Homo sapiens: one gene and its partners. The protein of the gene in region 1 interacts with the protein of each later gene in a pairwise test. Each region holds a gene or a part of one and is shown in the gene's direction. Other genes may lie near its edges.

The links.
Region 2: the proteins of DYDC1 (region 1) and PDZD4 interact in a two-hybrid assay, tested with the Homo sapiens proteins (one large-scale study listed by BioGRID).
Region 3: the proteins of DYDC1 (region 1) and ARNT2 interact in a two-hybrid assay, tested with the Homo sapiens proteins (one large-scale study listed by BioGRID and IntAct).

What each region holds. Positions count from the first base shown.
Region 1 is NC_000010.11:80,335,584-80,339,884, reverse strand, and holds the end of DYDC1 (DPY30 domain-containing protein 1), read left to right. Parts: intron 1-731; coding exon 732-788; intron 789-1,313; coding exon 1,314-1,418; coding exon of another isoform or gene 1,419-1,469; exon of another isoform or gene 1,470-3,699; coding exon 3,700-3,729; 3' UTR 3,730-3,780; downstream 3,781-4,301. UniProt on the Homo sapiens protein: Functions as part of axonemal radial spoke complexes that play an important part in the motility of sperm and cilia. Plays a crucial role during acrosome biogenesis.
Region 2 is NC_000023.11:153,823,995-153,827,644, reverse strand, and holds part of PDZD4 (PDZ domain-containing protein 4), read left to right. Parts: intron 1-3,650.
Region 3 is NC_000015.10:80,410,844-80,414,493, forward strand, and holds part of ARNT2 (aryl hydrocarbon receptor nuclear translocator 2), read left to right. Parts: intron 1-3,650. UniProt on the Homo sapiens protein: Transcription factor that plays a role in the development of the hypothalamo-pituitary axis, postnatal brain growth, and visual and renal function. Specifically recognizes the xenobiotic response element (XRE).

The sequences.
Region 1 (4,301 bases):
GGATAAGAAGTTACCAGGAAAATGGAGTGGTCTTGGGAAAACAGTGCTGTTTATGTCCCTATCATTAGGGTGACCATATGTATGATCAAGAAATCACTGGTCTTCTAGCAGCCAAAACGAATCAGCTCAGGGTCAGTTAGGCCACCCTGCTGCTTTAGAATGAAAAGGTAGATGGCATAGCAAGGTTTGGCTGACTAGAAGAATGTTTCACATTCAGAAAGAGGCCTCCCTTATTGGGCAGTATATTCCTACTGCAGTGCTCAGAGTATTAAAGAGGGCATTGCTCAGGTCCTGTGGGAGGACTTGTGCATTGGGCCAGATTAGTTCCTGTAGAAGTGTTTACTTCTTTCTCGGTATGTGCAAAACTCTACTTAAGTGTGGTTTTCTCCTTAAAAATCTCTTGTTCTAAGGTTCTATTATAATTTTTATTTTGTCACTTTTTATATTGGCAGATAATTTGGCTTCAGTTTGACTGTTTCAGTCCATTTCATTTTTAAAAAACTTTTATTTAATTATATATAAAACATGGTTGCCTTCTATTAGTATAGAGTATTAAATAAGACTGTGATCTGCAGTTTTGTAATGTGTAATCAGATCATTCTCTTTCAGAGTGACAGCATTTTTGCTTTAAATTCATCATAGCATTGTGTAAAAGTAAAAATGCCAAAAATTAAACATGAAATCAAAATGGAGTATATTCAAAGTATTTTCTTAATTTTTATATATTATAGGAGATGAGAATGAATATGGAAAATCTAGTTAGGAATGAAGATATTCTACATTCAGAGGTGAGAAGAAAAAGTCATTCTATGTTATGTGAAATGAATTGAGTATCCTAGAATGTAAAGCTTAATTTTGATGCATAAGTAGCTAAATTTTTAGCAAGTATATTATCAAAACTGATAGTCCATGTATATTTTCCGGTGATAACAAGTCACAAATAATGTGCTTTGAAGCAAAATCTCACAATAGGTAAAAATTGGACATTCAGTTTGTGTTTGGATTTTTAAAAACTAGGCTCTCTTGAGATATTGAAGCTATTTACCACATAATTACTTACAATTATTTTAAATTTCTGCAGGTATTTTTAAAAAAAGTTCTAGTATTTATTACCAGAATTGTAGCTTTGCATTCTAGGATACTCAATTCATTACCAGAATTCTCTTGTCATTAACAGAAATTGGTTAATTCCACTAATTAATAATGTTGAATTTTAATGTTATAAATCAGAAAATTTTTAATCAAAATTGAAAGAAAAGTAATGTATTAATTTTGAAATCATTTAAAAGTAAAAATCAATTTTTTGATTGTAGGAAGCAACACTAGACTCAGGCAAAACACTAGCTGAAATCAGCGATCGTTATGGAGCACCTAACTTGAGCAGAGTGGAAGAACTTGATGAACCAATGTTTTCTGATGTCAGTATCAGTGTGTTTTGTGAAAAAACTCGTTTTTGTTTTTGTTTTTGATTTTTTTTACTTAGGTAAAGCCTAGGGAAAATGAGGCTAGGCCAGGATTGGTTGGCAAATAGGCCTTTTGCTTCAGAGAAAGAAAATCAGTTCCCTGGTTGCGGATTATATTCCTAATTGGCATTCTGCCCTTTTGTGAAGTGTGTCACTGGCTTATCTATATCTCCGTATCTGTGACTTCAAAACCTCTTCAAAATATGTTTTAAAATCATTTTGTGAAATATATAATCTTTAAATTTGGTGTGGGGGGCACGATTTTTGTTCTCAGTAGCAAACCCTGGAACCAAATTAATGCCTTAATGAGAATGCATGCTTCTCCAGTATGTAAGTACATTTGTTTATTTAAGAAACATGCCACATCTTCCATATGCCAGGCACTGTGCCTGATGCTGTGGTGAATAAGGCAGATGGCTTTGACCTTATGGAGTTTATTGTCAGGGGAGAAACAGACAATTAGATGAACATTTAATAGTCATGGTTAGTGGGACCACATAATTTATTGTCCAAACCAGTATGCTTTTGAGAATGAGAGCCGGATCAGCAGATGTAAGCCAGGACTGTCCTGGAAGAAGGGTACATTTTGGTCACTTTAATTGGTGTACACGGACAAGGGGGGACAGCCAGCACAGTTGAGGAACCTCAGTCAGGGAAGGAAGCTAATGATTTGCTACTCACTGGTGGCATGGGAGGCTGAGGATAGTGCTCCAGGCAGAGAGCATGGAAGGTGTGAAGACCCAGATAGGAGAGCGTGTAGAGGGAGTGAGGCAGGGAGGGGTGAGAGCTGAGGCCAGGGAGAAAGCAGGGGCCAGACCATGAAAGCACTTGTCATTTCTGTTCAGAGGCTTAGATTTTATCCTGAAGGCAGTGGAGACTCATATGATGAGAGCTACATTTTGCAAAGACCATCTGGTAACAGTGTGGGGAAGAAAATGGAGAAGTAGGTGTCAGGAGATGGCTTAGGAGGTAGTAATCTAGGGGACAAGATGTCGATGGCCTGAAGTAAATGTTGTTTTCAAGAGCTGTTCAGAAAATGGAGCTGCACAGACTCAGTGCTAATTGTTTAAAGTTTTATTAAAGGTCAGCTATGATTTGGCACTATGCAGGGAGCTAGAAAATGCCAATGAACAAAATGGATTGGGCTTCTGCCCTTGGGGGCCGTGGGCCAATGGGGAAGCTTCTTTGAGGGACAGAGTAGGGAGAGACCTGACCTGGGCTGGACAAGTCTTCCTCAGGAGGTGAAGTTCAAGGAATTAGCCTGAGATGAGCCCAGAGGAAAGAGACAGCAAAATGCTTTCAAGGGACTGAAGTCATCCAGTATTAATGGCTAACGTCCATGGAGCTAGGAAAATGGTGTGATTTTAAGCTGGAGAGGTGGATAAAGGCAGAGCACACTGGGTCTTGTATGTTGCCTTAGGGATTTTGGACTTAAGTGCAGTAGGAGTTATTGAAAGGACTTAAAGATTCAATCTGTGTTTTTATAAGGTGGAGAGAGGATTGGTGTGGAGCAGGAGTGGAAAAAGGGAGACCACTTAGGAAGTTATTGCACTGATCCAGATGTAAGATGACTAGGGTTAGACAGCAGAGATGGAGGGAACTGAGTGGATTTAAGATTGGCTTACAGGATCAGTGCGGGGCAGGGTCAGGATGAAGCCTAAATGTCTTCCTTGGGCTACTGAGTTAAGAGTGTTAACATTTGATGAGTTGATGAACATAAGAGGAAGCAGGTTTTTAAAAAATGATGGCTTCAGTTGCAGAGATGTTGACTCTCAGGTGGCTCTGAGATATGCAGGTGAAAACAGCCAAGAACAGTTGATGTTAGGAAGGGGCCCAGGCCGGAGATATAAATTCAGCAGTCATGGGCATATGTGCTGAATGAAGCAAGGGGATTGAGTAAGGTACCTAGGAGAGAGTGCAGTGTGTGAAGGCCTGGGGGCTCAGGGAGGAACCATTAGCAATTCTAACATTGAAGGGATGGCCACAGGAAGAGGAGCCTACAAGAAGGATGAGAATGCATAGTAAGAGAAGTAGAAGAAAGGATGGAACAATAACTACTTTGAGAACATAATTTATGGTTATATTCAATTTGAGTATCATTTGAAATCATCTGAAACTCCCAAAAAGTTTCATTCATGTAGTCACATAGAAGTTACCTAAAGTTTATTTCTTTGGCTTGTGCCTTTTCACAGTTCTAATTGTATTAAGGAATATTTACTTTTTGTTTTGCTTTTAGATTGCATTAAACATTGATCAAGATTTGTAGGACCAACCAACCTAAGAGCAATAAATGTTTTTGTTTGTTTCAAATTTCAAACCATGAGGTTCCCAATTTGTATTTTTTTCCTTCAAACTTGAACTCCCCTTTTTTTTTCCTCTAAGGACTGCTTATGAATGGGCTTCAAGAGTAGCCTCAAATTATTATTTTGGATCCTTCAGTTCAACTGGTTATTTATACATTTCCATTGGGAAAATAGGAGAGTTTGCTGAAGCAACCAAAAGAGGCAAATGGGAGGTGAGCTGAACTAATATGTGCGTCTATGCAAGAGCAAGACTGCCTGAGAGGACAGTTGCTGGCTGGGTGCAGTGGCTCACACCTGTAATCCAGCGATTTGGGAGGCCAAGGCAGGTGGATCACTTGAGGTCAGGAGTTTGAGACCAGTGTGGCCAACATGGTGAAACCCCGTCTCTACTAAAAATACAAAAGAAAATTAGCCGGGCGTGGTGGTGGGCATCTGTAATCCCAGCTACTTAGGAGGCTGAGGCAGGAGAATCACTGGAACCCAGGAAGCAGAGGTTGCAGTGAGCCAAGATCATACCACTGCACTGCAGCCTGGG
Region 2 (3,650 bases), on another chromosome or scaffold:
TGTTTATTCTAAACATTTCATAGAAACTGACCTTTTGTGTCTGGCTTTCATTAATCATAATGTTTTCAAGGTTCATCCATGTATCAATAGTCAATTTCTTTTTATTGCCAAATAATATTTCATTTTGTGATATACAACATATTTATCCATTCGTCAGTTGATGAGCATTTGGGGTGCTTCCACCCTTGGGCTGTTGTGAATAGCGCTGCTGTGAACACTGGTCTACTTGTATCTGTTTGAGTCCTTGCTTTTAATTCTTTGGAGTGTGTGCCTGTAGCCATTGAACTGTTTTCCACAGTGGCTGGAACCAGTTTACATTCCCACCAGCAACATATAAGGGTTCCAATTTCTCTATATCTTTGCCAACAGTTGTTATTTTCTGGGTTTTTGTTATGGCCGTCCTGCTGGGTGTGAAGTGGTATCTCATTGTGATTTTGATTTGCACTTCCTGTTAGCTAAATGATGAGCACCTTTTCTTGTGCTTGTTGGCCATTTGTGGATCTTCTTTAGAAAAATGTCTGTTCTTAAGCCAGCGCCACACTGCTTTCATTACTGCAGCTTTGTAGTAAGTTTTGAAGTAAGGAAATGAGAGTCCTCCAACTTTGTACGTCTTTTTCAAGACTGTTTTGTCTATTCTAAGTCCCTCAAGTTTCCATATTAATTTCAGGATCAGGTTGTTAATTTCTGGAAAGAAGCCAGTTGGCATTTTGATAGAGATTGCATCAAATTTGTGGATCAATTTGGGTAGTATTGTTCATGAGCATGGGGTGCGTTTTCCATTTATTTAGGTCTTTAATTTCTTTACATGATGTTTTGCACTTTTGTTTAAGTTTATTCATGAGTATTTTCTTTATGATGCTATCATAAATGGAATCGTTTTCTTAATTTTACTTTCAGCCTTCTCATTGCTACTGTATAGAAATACAATTGATTGGCTGAGCGTGTTGGCTCACACCTGTAATCCCAGCACTTTGGGAGGCCAAGGCGGGTGGCTCACCTGTGCTTAGGAGTTCAAGACCAGCCTGGCCAACATAGTGGAACCCCGTCTCTACTAAAAATACAAAAAAAATTAACGGGGCATGGTGATGTGTGCCTGTAATCCCAGCTACTCAGGAGACTGAGGCAAGAGAATCGCATGAACCCCAGAGGCAGAGGTTGCAGTGAGCTGAGATTGCACCGCTGCACTCCAGCCTGGGTGACAGGGCAGGACTCTGTCTCAAAAAAAAAATTGATTTTTATACATTGATCCTATATCTTGCGACCTTACTAAAATTGTTTATTAAGTATAATTTGTTTAGTAGATTCCTCAGGATTATCTACATATTAGGATCATGTCATTGGCAAATAGAAATCGTTTTTCTTCTTCCTTTCCAATCTGGATGGCTTTGATTTCTTTTCTTTTCTTTCTTTCTTTTTTTTTTTTTTTTTGAGACACAGTCTCACTTTGTCACCCAGACTGGAGTGCAGTGGTGCAATCTCGGCTCACTGCAGCCTCCGCCTCCCGGGTTCAAGTGATTCTCCTGCCTCAGCTTCCCATGTAGCTAGGATTACAGGCACACACTACCACACCCAGCTAATTTTTGTATTTTTAGCAGAGACGAGCTTTTGCCATGTTGGCCAGGCTAGTCTTGAACTCCTGGCCTCAAGCAATCCTGCCCGCCTCGGCCTCCCAAAGTGCTGGGATTACCGGTGTAAACCACCGTTCCTGGCCCTTCGATTTCTTTTTCTTGTTAATTTGCTCTGGCTGGAGTCTCTAGTACAATGTTGAATAGAAGTGCCTGTGAATGTCTTTCCCTTGTTCCTCATCTTAAAGGTAAAGAAGCTTCCAGTCTTTCACTAGGGGGTATAAAGTTAGCTGTGGCTTTTTCATAGCTGTCCTTTATCAGGGTAAGGAAGTTCCCATTCTATTCCTAGTGTGTTTTTATCATGAGAGGCATTGGATTGTGCAGTGCTGCTTCTGTGGCTAGTGAGATGACCACATGGTTCCTTTATTCCACGGATGTGGGTTGTCACAGGCACTTTCGTGTGTCATGTCGGAACCTCAGCCCCATTCCTATATTCCAATCATGTCCTCCTAGTTTGGAAAATCTGGGACCTCCCCTGAAAATGGAGGATTACTGCGTGTTGAGTTAGGAAAAGGAAGCAGGCTGGTTGCCCAGAATGGAAGGCAGGAAACAGCATGTCCCCAGCTCCGGAGCCTTTTCTGCAGCCCATGTCCCTCCACTGCCACCAGGCCCCCTTGTCATATATCTCATCGTGGTCCACACTCTGCTGAACTTGTCTTGGCCTTGGCACCCCCTCTCTGACACCATGATGTGCTTGCTAGCATCCGAGCACGCCGGAGATGGTCAGGGGATAAACCCCTGGTACTTAGGACTGGTCTCCCGCCCATCCTACTCAGGCTTTACAGGGGGAGTGGGTCAGGACCGCCTGTCATCTCCCCTCTGTCCACATCGAGGGAGGCCAAAGGACAGCTGGCCAGCCCTTCTGGTGATCTCCCAGGCATTCTTGCCTAAAGCACCTGCATGTGAGCCCCCATGGTGCTGGCAGCCATCCTGGGTGCGTGGCATTCAGCAGGGAGACACTGCAGACAGGGCCTTGCCCCTCCCCCAGACTCCCCTTTTGTTGTTGTTGTTGTTGTTGTTTGAGACAGAGTTTCGCTCTTGTTGCCCAGGCTGGAGTGCAATGGTACGATCTGGGCTCACCAAAACCTCCGCCTCCAGGGTTCAAGCGATTCTCCTGCCTCAGCCTCCCGAGTAGCTGGGATTACAGGCATGCGCCACCATGCCTGGCTAATTTTGTATTTTTAGTAGAGATGGGGTTTCTCCATGTTGGTCAGGCTGGTCTTGAACTCCCGACCTCAGGTGATCCACCCACACCGGCCTCCCAAAGTGCTGGGATTACAGGAGTGAGCCACCACGCCTGGCCCCAGGCTCCCCTTTTTGTAAGGGGGAGACCATCGCCAACATGTAGGCAACTGCGGGGGAGAGAAAGTACTGCTTGAGTGCGGGAGCGTGGCTGGCAGCCAGTGTCCCCTCTTCAGCGACGTCTTCCTCCAAACTGCTCTCCCACCCACCAAGCCAGGTGGCTTCTCTGGCTCCCTCCTGCTTGCATGGGGGCTTCCTGTGAGCAGGGATTTGGGTCTGGCATGGGCACTCTGCCTCCCCGCCTCACCAGCACCAGATGCTGCCAGCACATCCACGCTGGCCTCCACCCTTCCAGGGGAAAGCTGGACTCTCAGTCAACTCAGTGGTTCTGCCGCAGAAGCTGACTGGGGAAGAAGCAGGCTCTGAGAAAGTCCTTGTGGAGTGGAAGAACAGAGGGCTGGACACTGAATTCTGACTGCCATCTTCTGGACCAGGTCATCCTGTTTTGTGTCATTGTCCCAAGATTGTAGAATGCCCTTTCCCCTCTCATCTCGGGGTTCCTGAGGACTGTCCAGTCTGCTGAAATGAAATTCGATAGTGCCAGAGAGCAGATTCGTGGTTGCAGGGATGGGCAGAGGGGCATGAGGACACTTTTGGGGAAGATAGAAATGGCCACTGTCCTGACGGTGGTGATGGTTCCCCAGGTTCATGTATGACATATGAACACCTGCCCTTTGCACACTGAAGATGTGCAGGTTACCACCCAGCAACAGACCTCACCAA
Region 3 (3,650 bases), on another chromosome or scaffold:
TCTCTCTCTCTCTCTCTCTTTCTCTTTCCCTCCTTTTGTGGGGCAGGTCAGGCTGTTGGACTAGCTCACCACACGAAACTCTTTGTTCAATGAAGAAAAGTTATTTCTCAGTTTTAGCCAAGCTCCTTTCCAATTGAGGGCTCTTGTTTATGTTGTGTCCCTCTTCTTGGAATGATTAATTGCTCACTGTCCCTCCTTCCCTACCCTTACCCCCTCCTCACTCCTAACCATTTTCCTGTCCAATTCCTACTTTTCTTCTGGTCTCAGCTTGAATTCTTACTCCATTAGGGAAATCTATCCTGATCCCTTTATCCAGGTAAAATGTACCTATCATGCATTCTTCCAGGGCCCCATAAAGCTGTACTTTGCTTCTGGAGCACTTCGCCTCATGTAAATTGTGCAGTTATTTGATTGATACCTGACTGGAAGCCCTGTGAGGGCAGGGAATGTATCCAACAGTATGGCAGCCCTGGCACCTACCATATTGCTTCCCATACAATAGATACCCAGTAGGGTTTTGTTAATGAATAAATGGAGGGATGCCAGGGAACTGTCTTTTATTTTGTATGTGGCTGCCTTTCAATGACTCCCTTGAAGGAAAGAAAGCATATATCCTATATTTGTGGGTCTCTGTAACAAAATAGTCCAGAGCTGTCTAATTGAGATTCTGACTTTTATTTGTGGAAACTGATTTTGATCTGAAAATCCTACCAAGATAATCCCTATGCAAACTAGTTCCTCTAGACTTTCTAATAAGGAGCCTTGGACACACAAAGCTCATCATTCTTCCCAGAAGAAGATTAGGTCAGAATTGAACAGTCGAATGTATTTATATATTTTTATTTTATACTGCTGTCCACAAAGGTTACACCAGAGGCTTAGAGAGGCTCAGAGACTTACCTCGAGTCCTCAGCAGGTGGGTGGGTGAGGAGGTCCTACACCTACCTGATACCTTGGACACACAAAGCTCATCATTCTTCCCAGAAGAAGGGTAGGTGATAGCTTGGAGACTGGCTGGTGGTAGTGGTAGGTTCCGTGTTACAGTCCCACAGGGTCTTCTCAGAAGGGAAGTGGGATCCTCCCATTTACTGCCTTCTGTGTTGTGTGTGAAACTATTGACATGGCTTGCTTAATTACCAGCAGTTACTGATAAGACAGACTCCAGGCTGGCTTTGAGATTCAGCCACCCCAACAGCATTCAGGAAGGCAGCAACAAGGTCAAAAGATGCATTCATTGCCCTCTGATTGAATAGTGCAGGCTTTAGAGTTGGAAGCTGAGGCTCTTTGCAGATAAGCAGAGACTCTGTGGCTGCCAAGTCTATAACAATTTGACCATTTTTTTCAGGGAAATCTACAAAAATGCCAAAATGTTTACAAATAGGTACTTCCTGCTTTTGTACATTGTATGAAAACATGGGACATCTCTTACTGTTTTGGTTTCATTGTGAGAACATACAAAGCAGAGGTTGGAGCTCTTCTCCTAGCCCCTGCTGAGGAGTTGGTTGCTTTCTTCACCACAACCACTTTTCCCCCACAATAAAGATCTGTGTTGATTGTAAAAAATTTGGAAAATGCACAAAAACACTAAGATAATTCTGCCACCCATAACTAACATTTTTGCGTATATCCTTACAGACTTTTTTCTAAATATTGTGTGTGTGTGTATATATATATATATAACAAAATAGAATTATTTCGAGCATATTGCTTTGTCATCCCTTTTTTCCCTTCATTAATGGTATATCCTATCAAGGATACTGATTTGAGAAGCTGCATATATTCTGTTTATGGCTGTGTCATAATTCATTAACTCACATTCTTATATCTGGGCATATAATATTTGGTGTGCTTTTCTGTTTGCCAGAATTGTACACACCATTGTATTGAACATCCCCGTATATGAATGAATATATGAATACATGATTTTTTCCTTATTGTCAATTCTTTGAAGTAGAATTGAACAGTCAAATGGATTTATATACTTTTATACTGCTGTCCACAAAGGTTAGAACAGAGGCTCAGAGAGAGGCTCAGAGATTTATCTGGAGTCCCCAGCAGGTAGGTGGATGAGTAGGTCTTACACCCAGACGCTGTGCCCCCTATCCTTGGCAGGTTCCGGCAACCCAGGCCAGGCCCTGTTGCCTGTAAGTCTGGAACTCAGATCATCTACTGATGTCTATAAAGGGCAACTGTGTACCTTTCCTGGCCTCCTTTCAGTGATTTAATAATTTCAGTGGCTTTTTAATTAACTGCTGTTAGGGTAATTGGTCCAGGTCAAAACAGGCAGGAAGTTGCCTTACTCAACAGGCAGAGAGCCTCTGATGGCCTCAGTGGGCCGCTGCAGGGGCCCCATGACTGGGCTCTCCATGCCAACCTGGGTTCTCATCTGAGGCCCCATTGTTCTCCCTCCACCCCCTCCCTTACCAATTCACCTCTTCCATATGGCCTTTCTCAAACGCTGGTGCCACTAACTTACCCAGAAACCTTTGCTCACCGTCTATTGTCCACACATCCTCCTAGGATTGACCTACACACTTCCAACCAGACCACCTGGCTGACAGGGTGGTCCCAGGGCTTAGAGAGCATGCGGCCAGGTGATTTCTGGTCCTGCCTGCCTGCCTGTGATACCATTAGGCAGGCCATGGTGGTTATTCCTGTTTCAAATGCACATTCAGGAGTTGTTAGTAACTGAGGATAAATGTGTTTGTTTCTGATTTGGCCATCCCTACTTTTCTTCCAACAACTCTAAAAAAGTGGAGAGCAGCTGCAGGTGGAACTAGGCATCTCTCTATCCAGGCTTAGGTGGCAAAAGGAAAGACTCTGAGGTAGGACAGCCTGGGAAGATTCAGGGGTGCAATGTCCAGGGTGGGAGCACCAGAGGAGTTGGCCTGAGTGGAAACCCAGCTCTTCGGGTAGAGCCAGGCCTTCCAAGAGACAAATTAGCTGAAGGCCTTACTGGTGGCTGAGCGAGGGAGGTGGGGCCAAAGGAGAGGAGGGTGGCCTTCCATATACTCTGCCTGTTGAGTAAGGCAACTTCCTGCCTGTTTTGGCCTGGACCACCCAATTACCCTAACAGCAGTTAAAAAAGCCACTGAAATTATTAAATCACTGAAGGGAGGCCAGGAAAGTTACACAGTTGCCCTTTATAGAGGTCAGTAGATGAGCTGAGTTCCAGACTTAGAGGAACAGGAAGCCAAAGTTAATTGGTGCACCAATTTTTAAATTAATAGCCACACAAAATAGTATTGTCTTTCTTATCTTCAATAGACCTCTAAGTTGGGTGGCAGGACATGTGAGAAACCTGGGCACAGAGGCCAAACGTGTATCCACACAGTGCTTCTCAACTGGGGGCATTTGCAATGTCTGGAAACATTCTTGGTTGCCACACCTCCAGGGAGTAGGGGTGCTACTGGCATCTACGGGTAGAGGCCAAGGATGCTGCTAAACATCCTACTGTGCACAGGGCAGCCCCCACAGCAAAGAGCTTATCCAGCCTCAAATGTCAATAGTGCCAAGGTTGAGAAACTCTGGTCTATGGGAACAAAACTCTGTAGGCCTCTGGACAGTGGCAACTAGAAGAAAACCCCAGGAGTTTCACAAGGACATGTGGCCCCCAGATAATAAAGGGCTGGCCCCTTTAAAACATGTCA